Regions from separate parts of the Homo sapiens genome. Here regions 2 and 3 are each linked to region 1. The links come from fine-mapping of genetic effects on gene expression. A gene starts in region 1. Each other region holds a variant in brackets. All regions are shown on one strand. Distances are between the middles of the regions. Region 1 holds the start of KIF12 (kinesin family member 12). Region 2 overlaps ZNF618 (zinc finger protein 618). Region 3 holds the start of COL27A1 (collagen type XXVII alpha 1 chain).

What was found.
Region 2: its variant is fine-mapped to the expression of KIF12 in unexposed skin (GTEx, PIP above 0.99).
Region 3: its variant is fine-mapped to the expression of KIF12 in hippocampus (GTEx, PIP 0.91).

The regions. Positions count from the first base shown.
Region 1 is chr9:114,094,464-114,104,397 of GRCh38, forward strand. It overlaps KIF12 (kinesin family member 12), which reads right to left and starts at 4,829. Exons shown (of 19, transcript NM_001388308.1): 1 at 4,788-4,829; 2 at 4,641-4,706; 3 at 4,472-4,550; 4 at 3,839-3,966; 5 at 3,652-3,727; 6 at 3,144-3,278; 7 at 2,838-2,973; 8 at 1,924-2,015; 9 at 1,588-1,744; 10 at 751-869; 11 at 560-664. The coding sequence starts at 4,813. It overlaps LOC124902251 (a long non-coding RNA gene), which reads left to right and starts at 3,892. Exons shown (of 2, transcript XR_007061740.1): 1 at 3,892-3,975; 2 at 4,615-6,356. RefSeq lists an enhancer at 4,618-5,153.
Region 2 is chr9:113,920,106-113,930,039 of GRCh38, forward strand. All of the region lies in intron 1 of ZNF618 (zinc finger protein 618), which reads left to right. Among named protein-coding and RNA genes, the nearest start is that of ZNF618, 49 kb to the left of the region's middle. The variant C/T (reference allele first, on the strand shown) is at 5,952.
Region 3 is chr9:114,149,012-114,158,945 of GRCh38, forward strand. It overlaps COL27A1 (collagen type XXVII alpha 1 chain), which reads left to right and starts at 6,526. Exons shown (of 61, transcript NM_032888.4): 1 at 6,526-7,001. The coding sequence starts at 6,940. LOC105376225 (a long non-coding RNA gene) reads right to left here and starts at 5,257. Exons shown (of 5, transcript XR_930256.3): 1 at 4,084-5,257; 2 at 3,829-3,986; 3 at 3,582-3,676. RefSeq lists an enhancer at 4,333-4,854 and silencers at 6,391-6,510, 7,398-7,692. The variant C/T (reference allele first, on the strand shown) is at 4,277.

The DNA.
Region 1 (9,934 bases):
AAAGAGGCCCAGAGCCACCTTTATGGTTGTATAAGTCGTGCACTGCACAAGAACTTCCGGGTGTGGGAAGTAACTGGGGCCTAAAATCCAGCCCATGCTTCATTCGTCAGCCTTGCATCTTGGCACAAGGCTGTATCTGCCTGGAAGGGGCACCTTGTCCTAAGTGCACTGTCCTGGAGGGCCCCACTCTGAGCTGGACTCAGCTGTGAGTCCAATCCCAAACTCAGTTCTGTCCAAACCTTGGGCCAGATAATGGTTCCAAACGAGACCCCACATTAGGCCCCACATCAACTCCCACTTAACCATGATACTAACTGAGCTAGACCCTGAATCATATCCCAACTCAAACTCCAACCCTAGACCTGCCCTAAACCTGGCATGACCCTGGCTGGGACCCTGACCCCATCCTATACAACCATGATACCGATTCCAGGATTCCAACCCTAATCCCAACTTTGACCCAGTCCAAGACTTCAATCAAGGGACTCAGGCTCCAACTCCTGCCTGATCCCCCAGCATCTCCACGCCTGTCCCTCAGCTTGTGCCTGCCTATACTCACCTTGGGGGCCTGTGGTCGGGTGGTGACCCGCTGAGCTCGGCTTGCATATCGCAGGGTGCTGAGAGTCTCAGGAAGGCACTGGGCTGAGGGGGACACGCAGGCCACCTGGGGAGTGCACTCCCCCTGAGCGCTCCTCTCTGAGGGCCCCTTCCTCAAGACCCAACCTTCCCTGCCAGGCCCCGCTTAAGTACCATGAGGGTGACCCCGCGCCCTCCCAGTGAGTCTGCCAGCAACTTGGTGAGCTTGCTGTCCCGGAAAGGGATGTGGCTCTGCTTCCGCTGTGGGTCCAGCAGCAGGGAGATGCAGTGACCTGGGGAGGGAGAGCAAGAGTTAGGAAGGTTACATCACTTGCCTAGGGCCATCAGGCTGGGATGCTGCAGAGTTGGGCTCTCCACCCAGGCCTGTGTTGCCCTAAAAACCCATCTTTCCACATGATCTCATGACTCAGTCAGATTGGTCTCCACCACCAGACTGGGACTCTTTGAGGGCAGAGAAGGCCCTGTATACCCTGACCCTCAATGCCCAGCAAAGTGCCTGGTACTCAGGCACTCAGAAGGAAACTTCTAACAAATGGATTGTACACAAAGGAGTTTCGCGGGCATCTCACATGCATGCCACAGAGGAATACTGAGGGCACAGCCCCTGAGGATCTCCAGGTCCAATACCCTGGGGTGGGGTTGGGGAGAAAGCTCAAGTCCCTTCCCCTTACTAGGCCTCAGTCTTCCCAACTGCACAAGGGACATGCCAAATGTCTCTGAGGGTTCATCTTCTGCAGTTGAGTGGTTCTATTTCCCAAATTAGCATGGAACTTTATACACCCTTAGAGTTTATACATTCATAAGCAGTGTTTTACGAAGGGAGAAGTCAACAGCAGAGCTGGGGCCAGAATGGGGCCTTTGGTTCCTGGATCGCAGCTCTTTAACCCTCTTCTATTTACTACAACTCCTCTGGTATCCCCCACTGTGGAGAGCTGTGAGCCAGGCACAGAGGAGAGACAGGAAATCACACCGGTGGCCCCCAGGTCTCACCCAGGGCCAGCAGGCTTCGGTTGATGCTGTTAGCCTCAAGCATCAGCTCCCCACGGGATCCCGTGGCTGCTACCTTCTCACTGCCTGCCAGGTCCACAAAGCACAGCTTCCCACCAACAGGGGGCTCCCCAGGGTCCACAGAAGGCATCTGCTGGGCCTGAGGGATCAGAGCTTCATGGGGACTTGGGAGGGACCGTCCCCATCAAAGCCACAAGGTTATGGGACCAAGAGTTTCCATTATTAACCCCCATGCACACCCAAGTTGGTTTATATGTCCAGATACAGACCCTTGCTTGGTGGCCCCGGGTAAGCACCTTCCCAGGCTGGAGCACTCACAGTTTGACGGCTGATGTAAAGGGTGAGCAGGGCATGGCTTCGGCTGGAGGCCTGGTTCAGGGTGTGGGCTGAGTTCCTTCGACGGCTGAGACCTGGAAGGGAAAAACATCAGGAGCTGGACCTGGTAGGAAGAACAGGTCATCATCAATGAAGAAAAAGGAGCAAAGGAATCCTGGCGGAAGGGTCAGCCTCATGCAAAGGCAGGGAGGCAACAGAGTGGGTGTTGTTCAGGGAACGATGGGATGTTGGGCCCTGCTCTAGCAGAGATGGGTGGATGGAGGATAGAGAAAACTGAGCAGAAGAATGACAGTCAGATTTGCATTTTATAAACATCTCTCCCACTGCTTCGTGAAAGGAAGGGGAGAAACTGAGGCAGGAGATCAGCTGAGAGGTGTGGCACAGTGCTGGGGCCAGAATCCACAGTCAGCATCTCCAGTGCCTGCCAAAGGAGGGGTGCCCAATAAATACTTGATTTAAAAAAAAGAATGAGGCTGAAAGGGCCTTTAGGCTAGGCTAAGAGGTATGACCTTGATCCTCAGGGCCCTGGAAGGGTGGAGGGTCTGGAGGCAAAGAGAGATGGGGTTTGCAGCATAGAGGAGAATGGATGGGCAGGGGAGAGCCTTGAGGTGCAGAGACCACCAGGGAGCAAGAATGAGTCCTGGCGGAGGCCGAGGCCCTGGGCTAGAGAGGAGAGGGTGTGAAAGGAGTTTGGAAGGCAGAATTAGCAGGCCTTGTTGGCAGTGCGGGGAGGCCCTTGGGCCATGCCTTTGAATTGTGGTTTACTGGTCCTTCCCCACCTCCCCCAGGAATCATTTCTGAAGCTGCAGCTGCAGTCTGGGCCCCAAGTCCACACTCAGTGAACAACTGAGGAATGGGCACCCCTACCCGCAAAACTCCCCGCTGTCAGCACACACCCGTTTGCAAAAGTTCCATCAGGGCCTCCAGACTCCCAAATTCCACCACCCGCAGCTGCTCCACATAGAAGCCCCGAGTCTTGTTCCAGCGAACAGGGAGGGGCCGGGGAGACCCCAGGCTCAGCAAGTCCCGAACCTGGGAGGGGAGGGAGGAGGGTGAGGGAAGGGGATCTTTCTGAGTCCACCCATCCCCAGATCTTACTGACAACAGTCCCCACCGCCTCTTCTGTCCTTTGATCCAGGCTCCCTGGAAAGAAGCGCTCCGTTTCCTCATGGGCTGTCTTTCTATTCCTCTCATTCCCTTACCTGCTCATTGTAGATCTCCAGATAAGAGGCGCGAAGGGTGACAGGGGCACCCAGGTGCTGCACGCGGTCCAACAGCCAGGCGAAGGTCCTCTGCATGATGCCAGCCAGGCTGGGGGGTACAGGCACCCCCTCCCCCTAGGGGCAAAACCAGCTGAGCCATCGTCATCTCCACAGTAATAACTACCCTCTGTAGCGCATGTATGATACCGTGCGCCGGGAAACGTGCCAAGTTCCCAAACAATGGCTCATTTAATTCATAGTCGGTACTGTCACTTCCATTTTACAGATGAGAAAACTGAGAGCTAGGAAGGGGCCAAAGTTGAAGCCCAAATGCTCCAAATTGGGCAAGTCCCTTCTCTTTGGTCCTCAGCGTCCTCGTCTGCAAACAAGCGGGTCAGGCGGCGTCGTCCCAGCCCCTTCCCTCTGGGAGTCTGCGCCGCCTGCGGCTCCCCAGGGCTTCCAGCCCACCCAGCCCCGCCCCGCGGGGGCGCCGCCGGCGCTCGCTCACCTGGGGAGGGGGTCCAGTCAGGGTGTAGGTCTTCCCAGAGCCCGTCTGGCCAAAGGTGAAAACAGTGCAGGAGAAACTGCGGGCGGCAAGGGCGTGGCTGGACTCCGGCGGCTACCCGGGGTGGGGGCTGGGGGTGCTTCGGGGCCCCGCCAGGCCCGGCGCGGAGCGGAGGCGAAGCTTCACTCACCCGCGCAGCGCCAGCTCCCCCAGGCGCCGCACGCCGCACGCCCGGAACACGTCCTCCTGCGTGCGCGCCGCGTCTAGCACCGCACCGAAGCGGAACGCCACTTCTGGACCCCCGCCTGGAGGACTCACCTGGCGCGGGTGGGGCGGAGGAGCGGGGCACTCTGGAGGAGGGCGGGGCACCCTGGAGGGGCGGGGCACCGTGGAGGAGGGCGGGGCACGCGGGAGGAGGGCGGGGCACTCTGGAGGAGGGCGGGGCACCCTGGAGAAGGGTAGGGCGCTCGGTGAGGCACTCGGTGGGCGAGCACCCTGGGTTGGGGGTGGGGTGGGGGACACTCACTAGGGCCGGGGCATTCTGGGGAGGGTAGGACACCCTGGAGGGGCGGGGCATTCTGGGGGGGGCGGGCACCTTGGGTGGGCGGGCACTCAGAAGGGGCGGGGCACTCGCAGGGGTTGGCGCGGCGCACCCTGGCGGAGGGCTGGGCATCCTGGAAGGGAGGGGCACTCTGGGGAGGGCGGGGCACCTGGGAGAGGACCACTCCGGGGGAGCGCGGGGCCTAGGGCAAAGTTGCCTGGGGGAAGGGATCTGGCGTCCCCGGGATTTTTTATTGGGGAGATAGAGAGAGGGGTTCCTCACCTGCAGAGTCCGGGTCCCTGAGCAGTGCAGCACGCTCTGCTGCCCTCGACGCAGCTCGGCCGCGCTCATGGGACGTACCCTGGGGTCCGACAGAAGGGCAGATGGTACATCCTGATGTCTTCCTCGATCCTTGTCTCGCCCAGGTGCCTCCTAGCCAATTTATACCCACCTGAGCACCACCTGGATGGGCGTTTCCGGCCCCTCTGGCCCTTGCTCCAGGCTCCGCGCGAGATCCCTGTGGGCAGCAATGCGACTTATCATACCTGCACCTAGCGGCTGTTCAGGACTCCTCGAACCTGTCTGAAGATCTGCTTACCCGTCGGGTGACCCGCGTTCTTCCATGTCCTGCTCTGCACACGGAGTTAGCTCCGCCCGCGTCTCCTTTATTTACCCCCCACCAATACCCTCCCTTCTCCACAACACTGGGACTGTCTACACACATCTTGCATTCCCACCCCATCCCCCATCCCAGGCAGCCATCCATCCGGAAAGACTCCAGCTGCCCAGGGCTAGCTCGTTAAAGATTTACCCTTCCTCACCCCTGCGGTGGAGAAAGTCTCTCCCAAGCTAGGGGACCCCTAGCTAGGGGGTTCTGGAGTCTGAGGATCCCTTGCTCTTGGCCAGTCCTCACAAGAGGAACCCGTGGGACCACCCAGACCGGCCTCCTTTGTGCCCAGTTGGGGATACCTAAGCAGATAGGAAGGACTCAACCAAGGCCACAGAGCTAGCCTGCACAGGACCAAGCTTTTCCCACCCTCTCCACATACCCCCCACTCCCACCCCCAGCAGCTCAGCTCAGGGCCCAAGGAGTGGCACAGGTCTCAGTCAGCTCTAGGGACGACCTGGCTGGATTGAATCTCTGAGCTGACCTGAGAACAGGTTTCCAAGCATCTGGTAAAACACTGGGGCACCTGCCTCTCTAATGCCAAAGTTAATCCTAGGCCAGCATGATTGTTTAACCCTCTCCTGGTCTGGCTTATGAGAACAGCAGAGATGTCTGTGAATGTGCAGGGATGGGGCAATCACTTATTCTGTACCAGTCTCCATGCTGGGCACCAGGGCAGAGGAACCCCATGCAGCCCCTGACCCTTCCCAGCTCACAGTGTGTCTGGGGAGATGGATAAGTACAACCCAGCAGCGTGTAGGGCCTTTAGGGGGAGTACAGAGGCCTGTAGGAGCCAGTGGGGGTGGGGAGGAGGTGAGGGTATTCCAGGCAAAGCAAACAGGAGTCAGGATGGCCAGGGTGGGGTGGGGAGATGAGTGTGGCATGGAGAGGTAGTTTGAGGCTGGATCTAGCTTATGGTGGGCACATCAAGGAGTCTGGACTCACTCTTCAGGGAACCAGGAAGCCATTGAAGGGTTATAAACAGGGATGTGACACCATCAGGTTGGCATTGTTATTATTATTGTCATTCTGGCTGTCTTTGTATGTTCTCTGAATATTTCTGCAAACTCTCCGGCCCCCAAACACACATTAGGGTGAAAGCCCTAAAAATCACTTTTTCTCAATGTGACACATTCTATACCACCACAAATTACAGCCAACTATCAAAGCCACCCTGCTGGAGAATGGGCTGTCTTGGATGGCAGTGAGCTCCCCAGGCAATGGAGATGTATAAGAAAGAGCCATTTGACCTTTTGGTTATAGGACCCTCTAGCAGGGGCCACAGGGAAAGTTCTGTAGAACTAATAACCACTGCCCCCAGCTCTGCCACTAACTTGCCACAGTCTTGGCTTCTCTTGTTTCCTTCCTGTAAAAAGAGATTAATGACTTCTCTCCTATTTGACATAGTTGTTCTGAGATTTCAATGAGATGTGTCATTGAAAGTGAAAGTTGTAAATAATTACCTAAAAACAAAAATAAAAATTCCTAGATGATCTCTAAGTTCCCTTTCAACTCTGAAGTTCCTTAATCTATTTTTTGAGTCCTTGAGGTGGATAAGACAAAAATTACTATCCCTGTTTTTCAGAGGAAAAAAAACTGAACTAAACAGCGAAAGGCAGGGAAAGTTATCTAAGGAGAAAACAACAAATGGCAGAACTGAGAGTTTAAACCCAGAACTATGAGCTGTACATCCTGATGCTGCTTGCTATGGCAAGTTGCTTTTGTCAGGAGTAAACCCAGTAAATGAACAAGGTGCTCCTTTAAAAGCTGTTGAAAGTGTTAAAGACTATCAATCACTAGCATCTTAGTGTGCATTGGTTTAGTCAGATTGCTGGCCCTCCTCAGGCTGGACTGAGATGAGCCACGCTGAAGGGATTTTTGTTTTTTTTGTTTTGTTTTGTTTTGTTTTGGAGATGCAGTTTCTCTCTTATCACCCAGGCTGGAATGCAATGTTGCGATCCTGGCTCACTGCAACCTCCACCTTCTGGATCCAAGTGATTCTCCTGCCTCAGCCTCCCAAGTAGCTGGGATTATAGGTACTCACCACTACGCCCAGCTAACTTTAGTATTTTTAGTAAAGACAGGGAGGGTTTCACCATGTTGGCCAGGCTGGTCTCAAACTCTTGACCTCAGGTGATCCACCCACCTCAACCTCCCAAAGTGCTGGGATTACAGGCATGAGCCACCATGCCCAACCTTGAAAGGATTTTGATAAAAGTGCAGAAACAGGGGATATGTTGCATGCTGGTCAGTGGGGGCTTGTGCACCAGGCTTCCCAACCTGGGTCAGAATGTGTACATGATTTGATGTCCTTTGAATCACAAATGCAGGAGCAAAGTCCTGGTTCTGTTCTCTAACAGTGAGTGCAAACATCTGCTACCCTTAAATTGAACAGTCATGAGCAAGTTTTTATTAAGCCTCCTCTAGGTGTCAGGCAGGTTTCTAGGCACTTGAGATGCATACATTAGTGAACAAAACAGATAAAAATTCTTGCCCTTATGGAGCTTACCCTCTAGTGAGGTGGGAAAGGCAGATAATAAAAATAAGCATATAAATAACTTACATAGTATGTTAAAAGCTGAAAAGTGCTACGGAAATAGTATCACTCAGTGTTGGCGATGGCGAACAGGTTGTTGTTTATATAGTATAGTCATGGAATACCTCATTGAGAAGGTGACTTTTGAGGAAAGACTTCAAGGACGAATGTGAGTTAGTCATGCAAATATTTGGGGGAAGATTATCCTAGGCAGAAGAATTGTCCGATGCAAAGGTCCTGAGGTGGAGTATGACCAGTGTGTGTTCAAGGAATGGAAGAAGGCCAGGGTGGTTGGAACACAGTTAGCAAGGGAAGAGTGGGAGACAAAAGATCATAAAGGTGGCTGGGTGCAGTGGCTCATGCCTATAATCCCAACACTTTGGGAGGCCGAAGTGGGCAAATCACGAGATCAGGAGTTTGAGACCAGCCTGACCAACGTGGTGAAATCCTGTCTCTACTAAAAATACAAAATTAGCCAGGCATGGTGGCACAGGCCTGTAATCCCAGCTACTCAGGAGGCTGAGTCAGAAGAACCACTTGAACCTGGGAGTCAGAAGTTGCAGTGAGTCAAGATGGCACCACTGCACTCCAGCCTGGGTGACAAAGCAAGACTCCATCTCAAAAAAAAAAAAAAAAAAGAAAAAGATTATAAAGTTAATAGGAGCCTGGTTATGTGCAACCTTGTAGCCCACTTTAAAGATTAAATATAAAGAAATATCTAGCACATCTTAAGCTGCTGAAAACCAAAGACAAAGAAGAAACCATAAAAGCAGCCTTAGGGAAAAAACCATAGCCTTCAAAGTAGCAATAAGAAGACTGACAACTACTTTTGAATAGAAACTATGGATGCCAACAGACAATAGACAGTGTATCTTTAAAATGCTGAGATTAAAAAACAAAAATCAACCTGGAATTATATGTCTAGCAAAAGTATCCTTCACAAATGTAGGTAAAATAGACATTTTTGAACAAACAGAAGCTGAGAAATTCACCTCCAGTTGATCATCACTACAAGAAATACTGAAGGAAATTTTTATATGTTGAATGAGATAGAGCTCAAGGAAAAAATAAAGAGCATGAGAAAGAATAAATATAGGATGTATATAAAATCATTTTGAGGCCAGGCACGGTGGCTCATGCCTGTAATCCCAGCACTTTGGGAGGCTGAGGGGGGTGGATCACCTGGGGTCAGGAGTTCAAGATCAGTCTGGCCAACATGGTGAAACCCTGTCTCTACTAAAAATACAAAAATTAGCCGGGCATGGTGGTGGGCGCCTGGAATACCAGCTACTAGGGAGGCTGAGGCGGGAGAATTACTTGAACCCAGGTGGTGGAGGTTGCTGTGGGCCGAGATCATGCCACTGTACTCCAGTCCGGGTGACAGAGTAAGGCTTTGTCTCAAAAAAAAAGAATCATTTTGACTGTTTAAAAGAAAGTAACACTAACTTTTTGCTACCATTATAATATATATAGAAGCAAACAGACATTACACTAGAATAAAGGATAAGTGGAGTGAATGGAGTTAAACCATAGAATTGTAGCATTGGTTCTTCAATTGTTTGGGAAGTGATAAAAGTACTAACTTAAGGTAGACTGTAGTAGTTCAGGGATGTATAGTGACATCTTTAAGGTAACTATCACAAAAACAAGAGTTAAAACTAAGAAGCTAATAGAGAAAAATGAATTAAAACTACTTGACTGATTCAAAAGAAGACAAAAAATGAGATATAAAGTCACAAAGATGTCGGGTACGGTAGCTCACACCTGTAATCCTAGCATTTTGGGAGGCTGAGACAGGTGGATTGCTTGAGCCCAGGAGTTCAAGAGCAGCCTGGGCAACATGGAAAAAAGCCATCTCTACAAAAAATACAAAAATCAGCTGAGTATGGTGGCACAGGACTGTAGTCCCAGCTACTTGGGAGGCTGAGGTGGGAGGATCGCCTGAGCCCAGGTCAAGGCTGCAGTGAGCCGTGATCGTGCCACTGCACTCCAGCCTGAGCAACAGAGTAAGACCCCATCTCAAAAAAAAAAAAAAAAAAAAAAAAAAAAAAACAAAGAAAGAAAGAAAGTCACAAAGAATAAATGGAACAAATAAGAAACAAATAACAAGATACAATTAAACCCAATTATATCAGCAAGTATATTAATTGTACATGGGCTGGACACTTCAAATAAAAGACAAACATTGTCAGACTGGATACAAGAAACAAAATGTTTCTATATTGAAAAAAATGAAAGCCAACTTCAAATTTAAGAAAAGAAACAATTGAAAATGAAAGAATAGAAAGTTATATCACACCAGCCCTAACCAAAAGAAAGCAGTACAGCCACATTAACATCAGACGAAATGGACTCTAATGCAAGAAGCATCAATAGAGACACTGCGAAGCATTTTATTATATTATGTGATTCAACAGGAAGACATAATAATCTTAAATTGTATTCATCTAATAACTGAACTGCCAGAAGGAATAGACAAATTCACCACCATAGATGCTAATCTCAACCTAACTTTCTCTGTAACTAAAGAACAACAGGTAAA
Region 2 (9,934 bases), 170 kb before region 1:
AGAGATCCCAGGTATCCCAAGTTCATTCTCCCTTGGGCCTTTGTACTCCCAAGTTCCTGACAGGCCTCATTCAGCCAGTTGCCATGGCGATGCAGAAGTCACCTGCTTGATCTCTGACACTTTTGTTTCAAGTGAGGCTATTGGCGTGGAGCCCTTTAGGGGCTAGGAGACCCCTTAATGGTGATTTATGGTGGGGAGGAGCCTGCGGGGTGCAGTCCATGTAGTGTGCTGTAGTGCTTGGGAGAAGGTACTGTAACACAGAAGTAGATCTTGATTTTTTACTTATTTTCAGAGTCACAATTTTTTTTTTTTTTTTGAGATAGTCTCACTCTGTTGCCCAGACTGGAGTTCAGTGGTGTGATCTCGGTTCATTGGAACTTCCACCTTCTAGGTTCAAGCGATTGTCCTGCCTCGGCCTCCCACGTAGCTGGGATTACAGGCGCCCGCCACCATGCCTGGCTAATTTTTTTATTTTTAGTAGAGACAGGGTTTCACCATGTTGGCCAGATTGGTCTCAAACTCCTGACCTCAGCTGATCTGCCTGCCTTGGCCTCCCAAAGTGTTGAGATTACAGGCATGAGCCACTGTGCGAGGCCAAGAGTCGCAATTTTTAATGAGTTTACATCATAAGGTGGTGGTAAGGATTAAATGAAAGAATGGATATGAAGTGGCAAGCACAGTACCTAGCACATGGGAAGAGCCACATCAATGACAGTTTGTGATAGTATCAATAGGATTTAGCATTGGAGATTTGTGCAGTTTGCCATGTGGCTAGTTGTAGTTTTGCTAAGCCATACATTTGTGTCCCACCTAGCTGAGGGTGACAGTGCTACCTGGGTAGCCCATTTCACAAGTGGAAGTCAGTTGTGTGGTGTGTTTCCCTTGCTAGCATGCACGCTCCATCAGGTTAGGGGCAATGGCTGACCTATTGGTGGCTCCAGCTCAGCATGTGTCTCTTAGAACCTGACACAGATCAGATGTTGAATACCTTTGCTATTTTAAAAAGTTACTTGAGCATATGTATTCATTTATCTTGCAGCTTTGGCATCCATTAGACCAAGGCTGGAATCCTGGGTCCTGTGTCTCCCACCTAATACCTGGGTGTTCCTAGGCAAATTATCTCGCCTTTCTGGTCCGTTTCCCCATCTGTAAAATCAGGCCAGTGTTATGCACCTAGATTCTGCTCTGGACTTCAGAGAGAATGAGTGCAAAGCACACAGGCAAGCCTGTCCCAGGGTAGCATTTGTTGGGGACTGCCTGTATGATGTCTGGTTTCACTGAGTGGAAGGGTTTTCATGAGGTCAGAGATTCAGAGTTGATTTAGCCATCCACATGTTAGGCTGAGGGTGTTCTCTCTTTAGCCAGTCCCTTGAAAGGCTTCTTCATGGTTATGGCCCAGCAGAGAATCCAGTCTGGTTTTCCAGAGTCTCGAAACACCCACATCTGAAGATGAAACCCCGGAGGCAAACAGAGTTAGGAGTCACTGAGCTTGGAACTGACCAGCTGGGAATGTGCTGTGGTCTTCCTTGAGAAGATGGGGAAACAGAACATGATCTGGAAAGAAGGAAGAAGGAACAGCTTCTGTTCTTCTCAGGGGAAATGGGACTTTCTGAACTTCATCATTCTGAAGTGTCCCACAGATCAAATCCTTTTTTTGACTACTCCTTACATAAAATATTTTTATGACAAAGCTTTCTACAAAGCAAAAGATGCCTTCTATAAAGTGAATCATCACTTCGGATGCTTCCTTTGTATAAACCTGGCCTTTCTTATGTTGTAGGGAGGGTTTTTTTTTCCTGTTATTTGTATTATCCAAAGCAATACATGTTCGCTGTTGAACAGTTAGGAAGTTCCAATGAGCAAAAAGGAATAAAAAAATCAAAATCACCCATAACTTTCCCATGCAGAGATAATCACTTTGGATGTTGATTTTTGATGTATCGATACTTTGATGTATGTACTGAAAACACATATGACATGTACATAACTTAAAAGCTTGTTCATTCAAGAAGTATTTATTGAACTCCTACTCTGTGTGTGATCCTGGGGATAAACCAGGGAACAAAAAATAAACACAATTTCTCCAGGGGACAATTTATGCAGATAAAAGGAAGAGAAGAAATTGGAACAGAAATGGGACTGAGGAAAGGCCTGAAACTGATAGTGAAAGTCGTCATGGGCTCTGAGAGTTTTGATCTCACTGTGGAGTGGTTAGGTATGAAATGGAGGGCTGGACGGGGCAGAGGGAAGATAAGTTGGCAGCTGCCCAGAGGGCCAATACCTTCTATCCAAAGAAAGTGGTTGTGGTTGGTGTCCTAAGTTATGTACACTGGCAGACAGGGGCAGGCCGGAGAGGGTTTTGTTTTGGTTTGTTTTTTTTTTTTTTTTTTTGCATGCGGATGCCCAGTTCCAGCAACATTTGTTGAAAAGAGTATCCTTACTCCTTTGAATTACCTTTGTGCCTTTGTCAAATATCAGTTGACTATATTAGTTTGGGTATATTTTTGGGCTTTCTATTCTGCTTATTCTGTCTGTTCTGTTTATTGTGATCTACTTGTTTATTCTTTCACCAACACTACACTGTCTTGTTTACTGTACCTTTATAGTAAGTCTCGAAGCTGGGTAGTGTCAATCCTCCAACTTTATTGTTGTTCTTTGGGATTGTATTGGCTATTCTGGGTCTTTTGCCTTTCAGTATATACACTTTAGAATCAGTTTGTTGATATGCACAGAACAACTTCTGGACTTGTGATTGGGATTGTATCAAATCTTTAGATAAAGTTGGAAAGAAATGAAATCTTAACAATACGGAGTCTTCCCTCCATGAACATGGAATATCTCTTTATTTATTTAGATCTTCTTTGATTTTTTTCATCAGAGTTTTGTAGTTTTCCGTGGATATCCTGTACATGTTTTGTTAAGTATTTATACCTACGTTTTTATTTTTTTGGCACTAATAAAAATGGCATTGTGTTTTTAATTTCAGATCCCAGTTCTTCATTGCTGGGATATGTGAAAGCAATTGACTCTAGTATCCTGCAAGCTTCCTATAATCACTTATTAGTTCCAGTTTTTAAAATGGATTATTTGGGATTTTCTATATGGACAATCATATTATCTGTGAATAAAGAAATTTTTTTTGTTTTGTTTTGTTTTTACAATCTGTATACCTTTTATTTCCTTTTCTTGTCTTACTGCATTAGCTACGACTTCCACTATGACATTGAATAGGAATTATGAGAGAGGACATCTTTGCCTTGTTCCCGATCTTAGGGGGAAGACATTTAGTTTCTCTCCGTTAAATATGATGTTAGCTGTAGGTTTTTTGTAGATGTTCTTGATCAAGTTGAGGAAGTTACCCTCTTTTCCTAGCTTGCTAAGAGTTTTTATTATGAATGAGTGTCAAATCTTGTTAAATGCACATCTATGATATGATCCTGTGACTATTCTTTTTTAGCCTGTTGATGTGATGGGTTACACTATTGATTTTCAAGTGGTAAACCAGTCTTGAACTCTAAGAATAAATCCCATTTGGTCAGGGCATACACTTTTTAAAACATTTTTAGGTTCAATTTTGTACTATTTTGTTGATCATTTATCCACCTTTGTTCAGAAGAGACATTGGTCTGTAGTTTTCCTTTTTTGTAATGTCTTTATCTGGTTTTGGTACAGATTGAGTATCCCTTATCTGAAATGCCTGGGACCTGAAGTATTTTGGATTTCAGACTTCTTTTCAGATTTTGGAATATTTGCATTATATTTACTGATTGGGCACCCTTAATCCAAAAATCCAAAATTTGAAATGCTTCAGTGAGCATTTCCTTTGAGTATCATCTTGGCAGTCAACAAGTTTCAGATTTTGGAGCACTTTGGATTTAAGATGTTTGGATTAGGGATGCTAAACTTGCATTAGAGTAATGTTAGTGTCGTAGAATGAGTTAGGAAGTTTTCTCTCTGCTTCTACTTCATGGAAGAGATTGTAGAGAATTGGTATCATTTTGTCCTTAAGGGTTTGGTACAATTCACCACTTGGACTTAGGGCTTTCTTTTTTGAAAGTTTATTAATTATGGATTCAGTTTCCTTTATATTAATAGATACAGGCATTTTTAGATGATATGTTTCTCCTTATCTGAGTTTTGGTAGCCTGTGTCTTTCAAGGAATTGGTCCATTTTATCTAAATTACCAAATTTGTGGGCAAGGAGTTGTATATAACATTCCTTTGATCATCCTTTTAATGTCCATGAGATCAGTAGTGATGACCCCGTTCGATTTCTGATGTTAGTAATTTGTGTCTTCTTCTTCTTCTTCTTCTTCTTCTTTTTTTTTTTTTTTGGTCTTGGTTAGCCTGGCTAGAGGCTTATCAATTTTATTGATCTTTTCAAATAATGAGCCATTAGTTTCATTAATTTTCTCTACTCATTTCCTGTTTTAAATTTCATTGATTTCTGCTCTAATTTTTATGATTTCTTCTGCTTGCCTTTGGTTTATATTGTTCTTCTTTCTCTAGTTTTCTAAGGTAGATGCTCAGATTATTGATTTTATATTGCATTCAGTGCTATAAAATTTCCTCTAATCACTGCACTTGCTGCTTCCCATAAATGTTGATAATTGTATTTTCATTTTCGCTTAGTTCATAATAGTTTTTAATTTCTCTTGAGATTTCTGCATTGACCTGTGTGTTATTTAGAAGTGTGTTATTTAGTCTCCAAATATTTTGGAATTTTCTGGCAGTCTTTCTCTTATTGATTTCTGGTTTAATTCCATTGTGATCTTAGAGCAGATTTTGTGTGGTTTCTGTTCTTTTAATCTCGTTAGGGTGCTCTTTTGGGCCTAAAATGTGACTATCTTGGTGAATGTTCTGTGTGTCCTTGAGAAGAATGTGTATTGTGGTGTTGTTGGATGCAATACCCTATAATAATGTCAATTAGATCCAGTTGATTGATGATGTTGTTTAATTTAACTAGATACTGATTTTCTACTTGCTGGATCTGTCAGTTGTTGCTAGAGGATATTGATGGTGGATTTGTCTATTTCTCCTTGCAGTTCTGTTTTTGCTTCACATATTTTGTTTCTGTGTTAGGTACATACACATTAAAGATTCTTATGTCTTCTTGGAGAATTGACCCCTTTATCATTATGTAATGCCCCTCTTTATCCCTGATAATTTTCCTTGCTCTGACTTCTGCTTTGTCTGAAATTAATATAGCTACTCTAGGTTTTTTTAATTAGTCTTAGTATGGTATATCTTTCTCCAAACCTTTACTTTTAATCCAAATATATCTGCATTTTTATATTTAAAGTGAGTTTCTTATAGACAGCATGTAGTTAGTTGGGTCTTTTTTTTTTTTTCAATCCTTTCTGATGATCTCTGTCTTTTTATTGGCATTTAGACCATTCACATTTAAAGTGATTGATATGGTATATTAATATTACCACATTTATAATTGTTTTCTATTTGTTGCCCTTGTTCTTTGTTTCTTCTTTTGTCTTCCATTCTTTTTCTCCCTTCTCTGCAGCATTTTATATGATTCTATTTTCTTCCCTTTCAACATATCAATTATTTTTTAAAAATAGTGATTTTCCTTAGAGTGTGCAGTATACATGTACAGTTAATCTGAGTCCACTTTCAAGTAACACTTTGACGCTTCATGGTTAGTGCCACATATCTTATAACAGAGTAGTCCCAATTCTTCCCTCCCTTCCCTTATAACATTGCTGTCATTCATTTCATTTATCCACATGGTATAATCATCCAGTATCCTGTTGGTGTTACTATTTTGAACAAACTGTTATCTGTTAGGTAAGAATGAGAAAAATAAAAGATTTTATTTTACTCTTATTTATTCCTTCTTTAACACTGTCCTTCTCTTTCTGTTTGTTTGAGTTTCTGACCCAAATTACTTACCTTCTCTCTGAAGAACTTTTAAAAATATTTCCTGCAAGGCAGAT[C/T]TTCTGGCAACAAATTCCCTCAAATTTTGTTTTTTGTTATTTCTCCTTCATGTTGGTAGGATAATTTCACTGGATCAGATTTCTAGGTTGGTGTTGTTTTTTTTTTTTTTCTTTTAGGACTTTCAGTATTTCACCTATCTTCTTGCTTGCATGATTTCTGGAGAGAAATCCAATGTAATTCTTATCCTTATTCTTCTTATAAGTAAGGTTTTTTGGACCCCTTTTGCAAAAATATTTCAATATTTTCTTTTTGTCTTTTATTTTCTGCAATTTGAGTATGATACGCTGGGATACAGTTTTTTTGGTTTTTGTTCTGCTTGGTGCTCTCTGAGCTTCCTGGATCTGTGGTTTTGTGTCTGTCATTAATTTTGGAAAATTCTCAGCCATTGCTACTTCAAATATTTCTTCTGTTTTTTCTTTCTTTTCTTTCTGGTATTACCATTACATTTATGCTATACCTTTTGTAGTTATCTCACAGTTTTTGGATATTTGGCTCTATTTTTTACACTCTTTTTTCTCTGTTTTTTCTATTTATGAAATTTCTGTTTTTAGCAATTTCTTTTGATTCTCTCTTAGTTTCCATCTCTCTGCTTATATTATCAGCAGTTCTTGCATGTTGTCCACCTTTTCCATTAGAGCACTTTGTGTATTTTTTACTGGTATTTTAAATTCCCAAATCTGCACTGTAGCTCATGCTTGTAATCCCAGCATTTTGGAAGGCCAAGATGGGTGGATCGCTTGAGCTCAAGAGTTCAAGACCAGCCTGTGCAACATGGTGAAACCCTGTCTTTACAAAAAATACAAAAATTAGCTGAGTATGGTGGCATGTGCCTATAGTCTCAGCTACTCAGGAGGCTGAGGTGGGAGGATCACTTGAGCCTGGGAGGCAGATGTTACAATGAGCTGAGATCGCACCCCTGCACTCCAGCCTGGGCAACAGAATGAGACCCTGTCTCAAAAATAAATAAATAAAAAGTAAATAAATTCCCAAGTCTATGTCATATCCGAGTCTGGTTCTGATGCCTCTTACTGTAGCTGTTCAGTTTTTTGCCTTTTAACATGCCTTATAATTTTTTGTTGAAAGCTGGACATGTTGTATCTAGTAGTAGGTACAGAGGTAATCAGCATTTTAATGTGAGGTTTAAAGCCTTGCATGATGTATTAGGTAAAAGGAACTGAGGTAAATAGGCCTTTAGTGTGAGGTTTTATGTTTATCAGGCTAGGAATTAGGCTGTGTTTACAATTTATTGTAGCTGTCAGTGTCAGAGGCTAAAATTTCCTCTCTGGTCCTTGTTTTTGTCTCACCTGTTGTCTTTGGGTTTCTTTAGAGATTCCTTAAATAGTGACCAATCCTTGTAGTTCTTTCAGCTGTGATCCCATTAGCATACAGGAGTCCTGTTGATGTGGTGCTAAGGACTGGGCGAGGGGTAGTGTTCTAGAATCCTCTCATTGGTTCTCAGTCTTTTAGTGGGCCTGTGCCCCTGTGTCGTGACCTTTACATGTGCTTGTGAAATTTTTCTTTAACCCCTTAGGTGAGACAGGAAGGCTAGAGGAGTCTGGAGTTGGATATTTTCCTTTCCCTTGTGTTGAAAACTAGAGGGGTTGGAGAAGGACATTTCCCTTCCCCCATATCAATCAGACCCTGGTAAAACCCACTTTGGTTAGACCCTAGTAAATAGTTTCCCTTGAGGGCAGGCTTTTGTTGAATAGAACAGTATGTTCTGCAGGTATTTCAAAATGTTACTTTGTCCCTACCCCACCATGAGGAGATTTTTCTTCCATCTTAACTCTGAGAAGCTGGTGAAGCTCATGGAAGTTTTCGTCTTTCAAGCGAGTTCATCAGCTTGTCTTAAGTTGCAATTCTCTTTATTTGCTGTCTCTCCACTTTTAGGGGCAGTGGTTTGCTCTGTGACCTCAGTTCTCTGATGGATCTAAAAAGTTGTTTAGTTTCAGTTTGTTAAGGTTTTTTTCTTGTTACGAGGCATGGAGTGACAGCCTCCAAGCTCTTTACATGTTGGAATGGAAACCAGAAGTTTGTATCATCTCTTTTTGAAAATCTCTTTGTACTTCAGTTTGGATAGTTCCTATTGAACTCTTCCAATGCAGTGATTTTTGTTTTTTATCAGCTATATCCAGCTACTGATGAGCTCATTAAAGGCATTCTCCATTTCTGTTGCTGTGTATCTGATTTCTTGTGTTTTCGTTTCATTCTTTCCTATAGTTTCCATCTCTTTGCTTATGTTAACCATCTGTTTTTGGATGTTGTCTAATTTTTCCATTAGAACCCTAAACATATTAATCGTAGTTATTTACAATTGCTTATCTGACAGTTCCAAAGTCTGTGTCATATCTAAGCCAGTTCTGATGTCTGCTGTCTCTCTTCAGGTTGTGTTTCTTTCCTTGCCTTTTAGAATACCATGTAATTTTTTTGTTGAAAGCCAGACCTGACGTATCTATTAATAGAAACAGAGGTCATGAGGATATTAGTGTGAAGTTTTATGTTTATGTGGCTAGGAACTGTTCTGTGTTTAATGTTCGCTGTAGCTGGAGATGCCAGAAGCTTCAATTTCCTCTTTTCTTTGTTTTTTGTTTTCTCTCCCTTTTCCTGTTGTCTTTAGATTTCCCTAGAAACTCCTTCTTAAATAGAATCTGTGTCTTGCAGCTGTCTCATTTGTAATCCACTCTTATTATATTGGAGTCTTTTTGATGTGGTTAAGTATTAGGGAGAGGAAGTAGTCTATACTCTCATGATTCAATCTCAATTATTATTATTTTTTAAGTGGGCCTGCATCCCTGGGCTGTGATCTTCAGAAAAATTTCATAGCCTTTTCTTCTCCCTTTATGTGAGATAGGAAGGCTCGACAGGCTGGAGTTGTCCAGTTGTCCTTCCCTTAGGTCAGATAAGTCTGTGGTAAGGTAGATTCTTTCAAGGGCAGGCCTTTGCTCTGGAGAACAGCACACTCTATGCTATTTCAGAATGATCACTTTTCCCCTGGTGTATTTTAAATGGTTATTTTCCACCCCCAACTCCACATTCATCTCACTGAAGGACAATGGGATTATTGTCTAATCTCCACCATGAGAACCTGTTCAAGCTCCTGGAGTTAAAATCTATGAAAATGTGATGACTCCCCTAAGACTGGACCCCAGATTTTAACTCTCAAGCTAGTGCATACTCAGCTTCTAGCAGCTAAGTCAGTTACTGTTTAAACGTTCCTACCAGTTACCAGCCCCAGCCACTGCAGCTCCTGGTAAGCTGTATTTCTCTGCAGTTGACTGTCTCTGCAGATTTCAGGGTGGTTTGCTCTGTGGCCTCAATCCTCTGATATATCTAAGAAAACTTGTTGATTTTCAGTTTTTGCAGCTTTTTTCTTGTTGTAAGGATGGGAGTGATGACTTCCAAGCTCTGTACATATCAGGGCTGAAATTGAAAGTCCTCACCTGGTAGGTGTTGATGTTCTCCTATTTCAAAACTCTGCTGGAGGCTGTGGCACCCTTAAATTAGCTGGGAGACAGGGATACAGTAAGGGCTGTGGTTTGCTTAGTATCCCTGCCTCTTGTCAGGGACAAATGTTGGGTGGACCAAGCTGGGCTGGGAATCCTGAATTCAGGTCTGAAATGTGCTCTCTGGGCCTCAGTTTTCCCAGCTTTATAGTGGGGATAAGGCCAAAGCTCTTCCAGTACTCTATGCTTTAGTGACAATAACATAACCTTTAGTTCACTTGTTACCCGAGATAAGGAAATGGTTTTGGAATGAGTTGGTGTTTCATGGCAGTACTTCCCGATGCCAGCTTTGTCTTTATTGTTGCTTTAAATAACAAAATGGCTTTCTAATAAGAAGAGTGGAAATAGCAGTCATCACATGACATTGTATGAATAACCAGTAACTCAGAGCTTGTTTATCTTGGCTTTTTCCCCCATGATGAATGTGTTTTTAAAAGCATTTCCTCTGATAACAGCCTTGGCCTATAGGGCTTTCACGT
Region 3 (9,934 bases), 55 kb after region 1:
CTCCTTCCTTCCCTGATTCTTCCCTCCCTTCTTTCCTTTGTCCATCTAAGATTTACTGAGGGGTTCTATGGACATAAGACATAGCCGTAGCCTTGCAGGGCTCCCTGTTGTATAGGTGTGTGGTGTACCAGGCAGGATGGGGGCTGGCATGGCAGAGCGGAGGGAACACCGAGACAGGACTCCAGTGAAGAAGAGCAGGAAGGGCATTTCTAGGCGGAGGTGGCCACAGGAGCCAAGGCCTGAAATCATCAGTTGCTTTCATCCCCACCCTGGGCTGCTGGGGGTGGCCCAGAACTCATCACTAATGGCTTGTCTGGTATAGCCAATGGTTCCGGACACATTACCGGGCAGAGGCCAGAGACCTTAACTTGCCACAGTGCTCACATCTGGAAAATGGATCTAATTCTTCCAAGGATGACTAACTGTGCTGAAGGCTGGAGAGACAGGTTTGACCCTCTGCGGTTAGACACAAAGGTGGGGGGCCCTGCTTCTTCACACCAGCCCCACCATTAACTTTGTGTGGCTTTGAGAAAATCATGAATGCTATCTCTGAGACTCAGTTTCCCCACCTGTAAAATGAGGAATTTGGGCTAGGCAGCTCCATAGGTTCCTCCAGGTCTGAAAAGTCTCACGGGGCCCCACATCTGGGTCAGTGTTGGCCACCATAAGTGGGCTTTGGATCTCACAGCCCTTTGCCACTTGGCCTAGCCCTTGGGAAATAAACCCAGAGAGGGGAAGAGGCAGAAGGGCCCAGATGGTGGGACCATGTGCCTAGAAGGTGCTGCCCTCCCAATGGTGGCCTGGGAGCTTCTTTGACCTCTGCCCTTATTCCTTCTGGTAGAGTGATTGTGTTTGGAATTTTGGCAGCCACCAGGCCAGAGTGACGTAGTCCTGCAGGCAGAACCCAGGCCCTAGGAGACCAGTGGGCCATGAGGACAGCCAGCACTGACTCCAGCCACCTGCCCTGGGGAGAGAAATGGGCCCACATTGCCTGGAGGGGGTGAGAGAGACACTATTAGAATCTGCCTCACTCCAGCCTGGAATTCAGTTCATTTTACCAAAATGCTTTGTCCTGGGTGTTAGGAATACCGCCATGAGCAGGGCAGAGCAGCTCCTGCCCTCAGGGAATGTAAGGTCTACATTTAACCAAGGAATTACAGGAATGAAAAGTCAGTGGGGACCCATTCTTGCCTTCCCATGGTTCTTCTGCTGAACGTGACTCACTCGCTCATTTCTTTCCCCCCATTCTTTCTGTCCTGCTTAAACATCACCTCCTCAGAGAAGGTGATATTTAAATAAAATAGCCCCTATTTAAATAAAATGGCCCCACTCATCATTCTGCCACTCCACGCCCTGCTTAGAGGTCTTCATAGCACTCATTACAACCTGATGTCATATAACAGATTTGTGTATTTCCTCTTCCTCTGTTAAGACAGATGCTTTGTGTGTATGCTCTTCAGTATATCTACAGCACCTAAAATCGGGTCTTCCATATGCTTTGGGTCTGCACGTGCCTAACAAATATCTGTTGGTGGGTGAGGGTCATCATGGAGGAGAGGGAGGAGGTGGCAGCGGGGGTTAACCTGGTCTAATCTGCTGAATTTACTTTCTTTCATGTTTTCATTCAGGCCTTCATTCCGTCATTCGCTCAGCACTTGTGGAGAACTTCCTATGTGCCAGGCACTGTGCTTTGTGTTGTTGTCAGAAGCTAAACAAGGCAGCCGCGTCCAGCAGGGACCACAGCTTGTATTTGCCAGTGGCCAGCTCAGGGCCTGATGCGTGACAGCATCTCCCTACCAGGGAAAGAATGACTCCATGGTTAGACATGTATTGTGTGCGTATCCTTTGCTACACGCAGGGTGGGGCCGCCAAATGAAAGAAAGACCCAGCCTGGTATGCCCACAGCAGTGCAGGGTATTGGAAAGACTGGCAGACTCTAGCTCTTCTCCTAGTGGGAGGAATCTGGTTCTCCTCCAAGCCCTGCAGTACCACTTAAACAGGCTTGATTTGAGGCAGGACTTCCTGACCTGCATTTTTTATCTGTCTTTCTCTTTGCTGGCCTCCTTCCTCAGACCATAGCGCTTCTAGAGCAGAAAACCCAGCCTGGTGCACAGTGGGTCTTCAGAAGCAGCTTGGTGGGTAAACGGACGTGGATTGATACTTGGGGCAGTATGCAACCTCTGTCCTGCAGGTTAAGACTTCCTCTAGGGCCAGGTGCAGTGGCTCATGCCTGTAATCCCAGTACTTTGGGAGGCCAAGGTGGCAGTATTGCTGGAGCCCAGGAGTTCAAGACCAGCCTGGGCAACAAAGTGAGACCCTGTCTCTACCAAAAAACAAAACAAAACAAAACAAAACAAACACTTCATCTAGTGGTTCATTCATAAATATTTTGTGAGCATCTACTGTGTGCCCAACATTAAAGCTATTGCAACCAACAGCTTCTCCTAAGGCAGATGTGCCACAGAGACCGATGGGTCCATGGCTGAGCTGCTTGAGCAGGGAACAAACTATGTGTTCCCTGAAAGTCCCCACCAGGCCAGGAATTCTCATCCTGAGGCATCTACAGAGGCCTGGCAGCCCCTGCCCACCTGGTTCCCAGGCTTACTGCCTTCTGCCCCATAGAAATGGGCCCCTTAGGGCTGTTTGGTGAGTGTGCTGTCCCCTTTGAAGGGTGGGTAATGGCTTGGTGTCTTCCAGATTCAACGTCCATCAGAACAGTTCATGCCCAGTCACTGGCTCTGCGCCAAGAACCTGCCTGGCAGGAAGACTGCTTGTGGGGAGACGGCAGAGGCAGGATACAAGGCCCTTCCTTGGAATTCTCCCCAGTGTCCCTGCCTCCTCTTCTCAGCTGCCCATGAGCTCCTGGAAGGCCATGAGCCTCATTTCCCTCCCGACCTAGCAAAATGCAGTTAGCCCTCAATATTCACATACATAATTGGATTTCTTGTTGAAGGACAGTCTCATGCCTCCAAGCTCAAAGGGCCCACACAGATCATCACGTTTGATGCACCTATTTTACAGATGGGCAGAGTGAGGCTCTGAGAGGGGATGTCCTCAATCCTTTTGGGTTCTCATAGCATTCTCACGGGTCTTTTGGGCTGACCTGGGTGAAGCAGGCAGCATTCCCTGGCACTAAGCCTTGCCTATTCACATTTGTGAGTGAAATTTGGAAAGGCCTTGGTGCTTAGCCACTGACCTGCTGCCTGCCTGACCTTTCAGGAAATGCAGTCCCTTGCCTGGAAATGGCTTTGTGGACAGTGAGTCGTGTGGTATCACCCACACAATACAGTGGGGAGAACTGGACAGTTTCCCCAGTTTCTCACTGGGCCCCACCGCCTCAATCCTCCTTCAAAACCTGCCTGAAATCCAACTCTGTCCTCTTGGTCTTTTTGTGACTCTTTCACCGGAGATGTCCTTCTCCTCTGTGGCTGCACATTTATCCAACACACCCTTTAAGATCCAAATGCCACCTCCTCCTGGGGGCCTTCCTCGGTTTCTTTCCATCCCTTAATCAGCTTCACAATTCAATTGATCTGCATCTCTTTGGTGGCATTTATCACATTCTCCTTATATTATCTTACCTTTATGCAGTTGCAGGGGGTTCTCCATGACATAGTGATGTCTGATGTCTCCCATCCAGACTCTCTTCCCTACCCCAAGTTGCTGTGCGTGTCTCCTGTCCACATTACAAATGCGTGCATGACCAGAAGGCAGGACCATATGGAAATTTTTGTCCCTGCCCCCACAGTGGCAGACCCTTTTCCCCCAGAGTCTTGTACAGGGGTTTGCATACTGTAGGAGTTAAAACAAATAACTTATTTAAATTACCAACGGTTTGAGCATCTATTGTATCCCAGGCTCCATGTGTCAGGCTGGGTGTGGGGACACAGAGATGGATCTGACAATGACAGCGCCATGTGATGTGTGCTGCAATCCCGGTGTAGGGCAGAGCAGCTCACCAGAGTCAGGTGAGCTCTGGCCTGCACCTAGAAGAATAACCAGGTTGTGAACAGGCAGAAAAGGGGCAGAGGGAGAACCTGGGAGGAAACAGTATGGAGAAAGCATCGAAGTAGTCAAGCTTACCTGAGCCTGGGTGCAGGTATCAGAGAGACTGGAGCTCAGGAGGCCGGATCTGAAGCTGGGGAGGCTGCTGAGGATCTGCACAGAACCCCTTAAAGCCTAAGATTTGGATCCTTATGACAAGATGCAGAAGTTTGGAGTTAGGTTACCTGGGTTCAAATCCCACCTCTACCACCTACCCGTTTATGTCAGCTTT[C/T]CCATCTGTAAATGGAGAGAAAAAAGCAGGCCTCCCTTAAACCCCAGCACTGTGTGGGTCAGGGTCTGGACTAGGGTGTGGCACATGCAGAGATGCAGCATACCAGGAGATGCCAAGAAAACTCAGCAACGGAGGTAAATTGCCCAAAGCAGTGCCCCAAACCCCTAAGTAATCAAAATAATATTTTAATTTTTTACTTTTAAAATATTTTTAAAAGTATCAAAATTAATGCAAAACCCCACAATGAACAAAATATCTAAAATGTAAATAAAGACAGGGTCTGCATGGTACCAAGTATGCAACTAAAAAAACATCAGTTATGATTGAAGAGGGAGTTCTCAACCTTAGGGGGCCGTGGACTTCTGAAAACCGGAGGAAAGCCCACGGCCCCTCTCCCCTGAAGAATGCACAAACATGCTCAATTTGTGCACAGTTTGGGGGTGTTCCTGCACTCCCTGGGGTTCGTGCACATGGAAGTTAAGAACTCTGGTTCAACATTGGGGGTGCGGGGGTGGCGGGGGTGGTTCCACGCGCCGGCCAGCAGCCTGCCAGTTCCCCAGTCCCGCGACTGGCCTCCCTCCTGGCAGCCATGGGTGCTCTGCCCTCTGCAGGAAGCAGCGCACAGCTATGCAGCTCCCCCAACCCCCCTACCTCCCCTCTCTCGGCTTGGGACTTTTCCTAAAGTTTGTTGAAACCAGACACCTTGCTCGACCGAGCCCGCGTGCAGCCAGGGTTTAAAAGGCCGCCTTCAGCGCCCCCTCCCCGCCCCCAGCGGAGACTTCAAAAGGCCCGGCGGGCGCCGCCGCCCCAGCACCTATGAGCCGCCCCCAGCTCTCGGAGCCCGCGCCGGAGCCCGTGGACGCAGAGCTGCCGAAGTTCGAGCGCAGGCGGACCGGGTCGGCGGCGCAGTCCCGCGCGCCCATGCCCCTCCCGGTGCCGCTGCGCTCCGCGCGCCCGCGCCCCGTTTAGGGAAGGGGACCTCGCCCCCCGCCCCCGCGCCCACGGCTGCGGGGACCCATGAATACAAATGCCGTTAGGCGCCGGAGGAAGGACCGACCGGCCAGCCTCGCACGTAGGGACCCAGTAAGTGCTTGGGGGCTCCTGGAGCGGTGCGAAGTGTTATATGCCTGTGTGTGCGCGCGCCTAAAGGTGTGCGCGTATGGGGAGGTGGGTACACGCGTGAGGAGTGAATGCGTGTGTGCACATGTGCGGTGGGCACTCTCGGAGAACTGTGTGCAAGTGAGGGTGTGCGCGCGTGTGTCCACCCGGGGTGTGTACATGTGTGGGGGCGATATGGCCAGGATAGCGTGCATTTGTGCCTGTGTAAGCATCCGTGTGCATGCTTCTGCGAGTGTAGAGTATCAGCGTGCGCCTGAGCCCAGATATCTGAGGATGCGTTTCGTGTGAACCTAGGAAGGGTGCGTGGCTGTCCCAGAATGGGACCGTGTGTGAGCGTGTGTCTGAGTTTGGGGAAAGGGTGGATACGTGTGGGAGTGTGTGTGTGCACCGGTGAATAAGTGTAACTTTGCTCGTGAACGAGTGGCAAGAGGTGGTAGAGGCGGAGGGAGCTGTGGTCCCAGGGCTGGACTGGAGTTTTGGGTGTGAGAATTTGCCCGGGGGCCAAGGTGTGCAGCTCTTAGCTCCCGGATGGGATCCGAGGGAGTTTTTGTCGATTCTGGGGAGGTGCGTGGTTAGTGGTGGTGGTGGGGTGCGGTTAGATTCCAATTGCTGACAGAAGGGAGAGAGAGGGTGGCAAACCCTTAACAAGCCCACCCTATATGTTCTCCAGGGCGCTCCGAGTCTGGGAGCGCAAACTTTTGGTGGGCGGTGGGGATCACGATACTGGTTGTCGTGGGCGTCTGGACACCAAGTTCTGGTCCTAGCTCCGTCCCTGAAACTGTGGGTTTCTTCCAGGAGTAGAATTTGGCCCTTCTCCCCTACCCCAACCCCCCATTGGAGGACCCCCAGCCTCACCAGTCAGAAGTTCCTAATCTCAGAACGGTGATCAAATCACCGTGAAGCCCTGGGCAGCCCCTTCCTCTCTGTGAATCTGTTTCCCCATCTATACAAGGAGGAGGGGGGCGGGTGTCCCATCGGGGCTGTAGTGGGCCAGCTGAGGCTGTACCCTTGGCTCCGGCCGGCAGGGGGCAGCAGGGGGCAGCAGAGGGCGGCCGGGAGCGGGGAGGAGGGAAGGTGGAGAGCCACCGCGGGCCGAGACTTTAAATCGCCTTCATTTCCCCCAAATCCTTCCTTTTCCTCTCCTCCCCCAGGCCGGCGGGGAGGCAGCTTCCACCGCCCTCCGCGCGCCCTCACCCGGCCTTGCTCTGCCTCCGGGGACCGCCAGCAGCCCGCCTCCAAAAGTTTGATCATCTCTCTCTCTCTTTTTCTTGCTTCTTCTTCCTTTTTGGTGGAAGCAGAAAAGGACCGAGGCAGGGGCGAGCGCGGCGCCCGGACTCCTGGGACCATGGGCCTGGCGCGGGCGCCCGCGGGGCCCCAGCCGCGCTGCCTGCCTGCTCGGGCGCCCCTGGGCGCGGGGCTGCGCTGGGGGCGCGGGGGCCGCGCGCTCTAAGCCGGCCTGGCGCGGCGGGGCGGGGGGCTGGCGGCCCCATGGGGCGCGCCCACACTTGCCCCCCGGGCTCGGGAGCATGAAGTAGGGGCCTGCCATGGGAGCGGGATCGGCGCGGGGGGCCCGAGGCACAGCGGCGGCGGCGGCGGCGCGCGGGGGGTGAGTACGAACTCGGGGACGCCCCCTCCCTAGCTTCCTGCTGCTCCAATCTCGGGGAGGGCCGGGGTTCCCCGCCATGCGGTCGCTTCCAGCGGAACGTCAGCTTCCTGCCCCTTCCTGCGCCCCCGCGAGGCGGGACGCCAAGGGTTAATAGGGGCTGCGCCCCCGGCCGGGCGAGAGTTGGCGAACGCTGCCCGCCCTGCCGCGCCTGGCCCGGCTGCCCGATCCCGTTGGGGCGGGGGCAGAGCCAGCCCGGGGGTCGGGGGTGGGGGTGGGTGGTGGCGCCTGGAGCGGCCGGCGGGGTGCGGAGGGGGGCTTTTTGGATGCTTGGGGGAGGAGGGGGGTCTCCGTTTGGGGCCGTCTCGGTGTGTTCCGGTGTCTCAGTGTCTGCAGGTCCCAAGCCTGTACGTCTCCGTTTCTATCTGTTCTTGTGAAATTGTCCGCAAGTTTCTAGGTCACCAGGTCTCGGGTTCTGCTCCTGTCTCCGTGTCTGTGTGGCTCTGCACGTCCCCGCGTTTCTGGAAATCTCCGCGTGTTTGTGTTAGTCGGCCTGGGTCTGTGTGTCTGTGTTTCCTGCTTCTCGGTTCCTGTCCCTTTCACGTGTGTAAGAGAGAAAAAGTGAGAGCCAGCATGTCAGAGCAGAAAGGGCCCTGGGCGATCACTGTGCGGAACCCCTCAGTGTACAGATCGGGAGACAGGGCCGGAGAGGGGCAGGGACTCTCCCAGGAGCGGCTGCGCGGAGCTGGGGCCCAGAGGCTGGGATTCCCAGCGTGTGGAGTAGGAGTTGTAAGAGAGAGTGAGCCTGTGCTGGAGCCGGCGCAGCGTGTGGGTGTGTGTGGGAGCCAGCAGCATGCAAGCAGCCCGTTGGGGCCTGTGGACGGCGCTCCTCTCTTTCCATCCTGCCCCCAGGACACCAGGACACTCCCCAGAGGCTGTTAGGGCTGTAGCTGGGCCCTGCCCCCTTTGAGCTGGAGTCCGCGGGATGACACCCCCTCCTTTCTTCCCCATGTCTTGGAAAAAGCTGGCTGTTTGCGATTCCCCCGCCCCGCACCCCCTCACCACAACACACACACACACACACACACACACACATACGCGCGCGCGGCACCAGTGAGCACACTGCTGACTCATTTTCTCCAGAAGACCCTGCGCCAGGGTAGATGCCAGCAGTTGGGCAGAAAAGTGGTGCCAGGCGAGCACCCCATGGTGGGGCTCCAGCTGTGGGCAAGTGGGCAGTCAACACTGCTCGGAGGCCCAGTCTCTGCCTTCTCCTGCCTCCCTGCCTCCCTTGACATCACGTTGTCCTGCATCATGTGCGCTCTGGCGCCAGCATACCTCTGCTCTCCAGCATGCCTCTGCTCTCCAGCATGCCTCTGCTCCTGGACCCTTCTGGCCGGACCAAACTCCATGTCATGTCTATGGACACATCCCTGGCCTCTGCCTCCTTCTGTTTCCTCCCTGTACTCAGAACATTCTCCCTCTCCTGTGCCTCCACCAGCGCTGCGGACCCTCAGCAGCCAGCAGCCTCCTGGTGGTCTCTGTCCCTTTCTGAGCACACTCCCCTGTTCTTTGTTGGCATTTTCTCTCCTCCATCTCTGTCCAGGGACCCTCTTGATACCCACATGCCTGGCTTGGCTACGCAGAGTAACATATCCACTGGTGGTAGGGGACAGCAGTGAGACACTCACAGAATCATGTTGGTGGGAGGCAGGCGGCACCACAGGAGGGCCATGAGGCTTGCCATCAGGCAGGCTCGAGTTTGAATCCTAACTCTGCTGTGCCAGCTTGGGTGAGCCACTCTGCTGCTTGTTTTTCTCTTCCACAAAACCGGCACCTTATTCCTAGCTGGCTGGGTTTTGTGAAGATGAACAGGACCATGCTTGTAAAGGGCTTAGAACAGGGCCTGGCATGTAATAAGTGCTCAGTAAACGGCAGCTGGTATTTGTATTATTCCCTTCATGTTGAATGGGTGTGTGAGTCAATGGGAAAGTTCTGGGCTGCATCCTCTCCAGACGATGACCTGTCTGTGTTCCCATGGAGGACGTGGAAGCTGTGAAGAAAGCCCAGGCATAGCCGTCTGGGCACAGGGGGTCTGGCCAGTCCATGGAGGCAGGTGGGACAGGTCCACCCCACTTGATGAGCTGTAGTTCCAGCTAGCTCCCTTTTCAGCTTTTACCCCATGCGTGAACAGCCAAGCCTAGTGTCCACAGGGCCACTTTCCCTGTGTGTTTCTGTGGCCTGGGTCTCAGCTCAGAGCCCTCAGTGACTGTTGAAGCTGGTGTGGGTTTCTAAGATCCTGTGTGTTTCCAGGTAATAAGGATGGAAGAAAACTATCCAAGCAGTCTGCCGGTTCTGGCAGTGTGGTTACCCAGGAGTAGCCCCATTTGGTGCACTGGCAGAGGGCCTTTTGCAAGGGCATAGAAACACCTGGGTTTCCTCTTTGGAGGGCTGTGTGGCCAGACGATGTTTCCATGTGATGTTTCCTCGCGGCTCCCGTTTCGGCTGCCTCCTGGCCTCCCTGGCCTCTGTGCTCTGGTCTTCCTGACATTCTGGAGCCCTGGGTTTGCAGAGACAAGGCCCACAAGACAAGTGGTGAAAACAGAAGTCTGGAAGAACAAAGCCCTGAGCCAGCACAGGCACTAACCATGATTAGCAGTAGCCTAAACAGGATTGGAACGGGAGCAAAAGAATCGGCAGGGCCTCCCTCTGAGAGCCAACTTTCCAGGCCTGGAGCTGACTTAGATGGCTCGTTGGCTCCCTGGGTTGCATCTCTGTTCCTGCTGGTGAAGGCTGGGGCTCGGGTCTCTGGCAAGTAGGAAGTCCCTGCAAGTCTCCAATTTCTGCTCCATGGAGACAAGTCAAATGAAAAGGACTATCTGTTAAGTCATAGACTTGAAGCACTGTGTGACTTCGGGCAAGTAACTTGCCCTCTC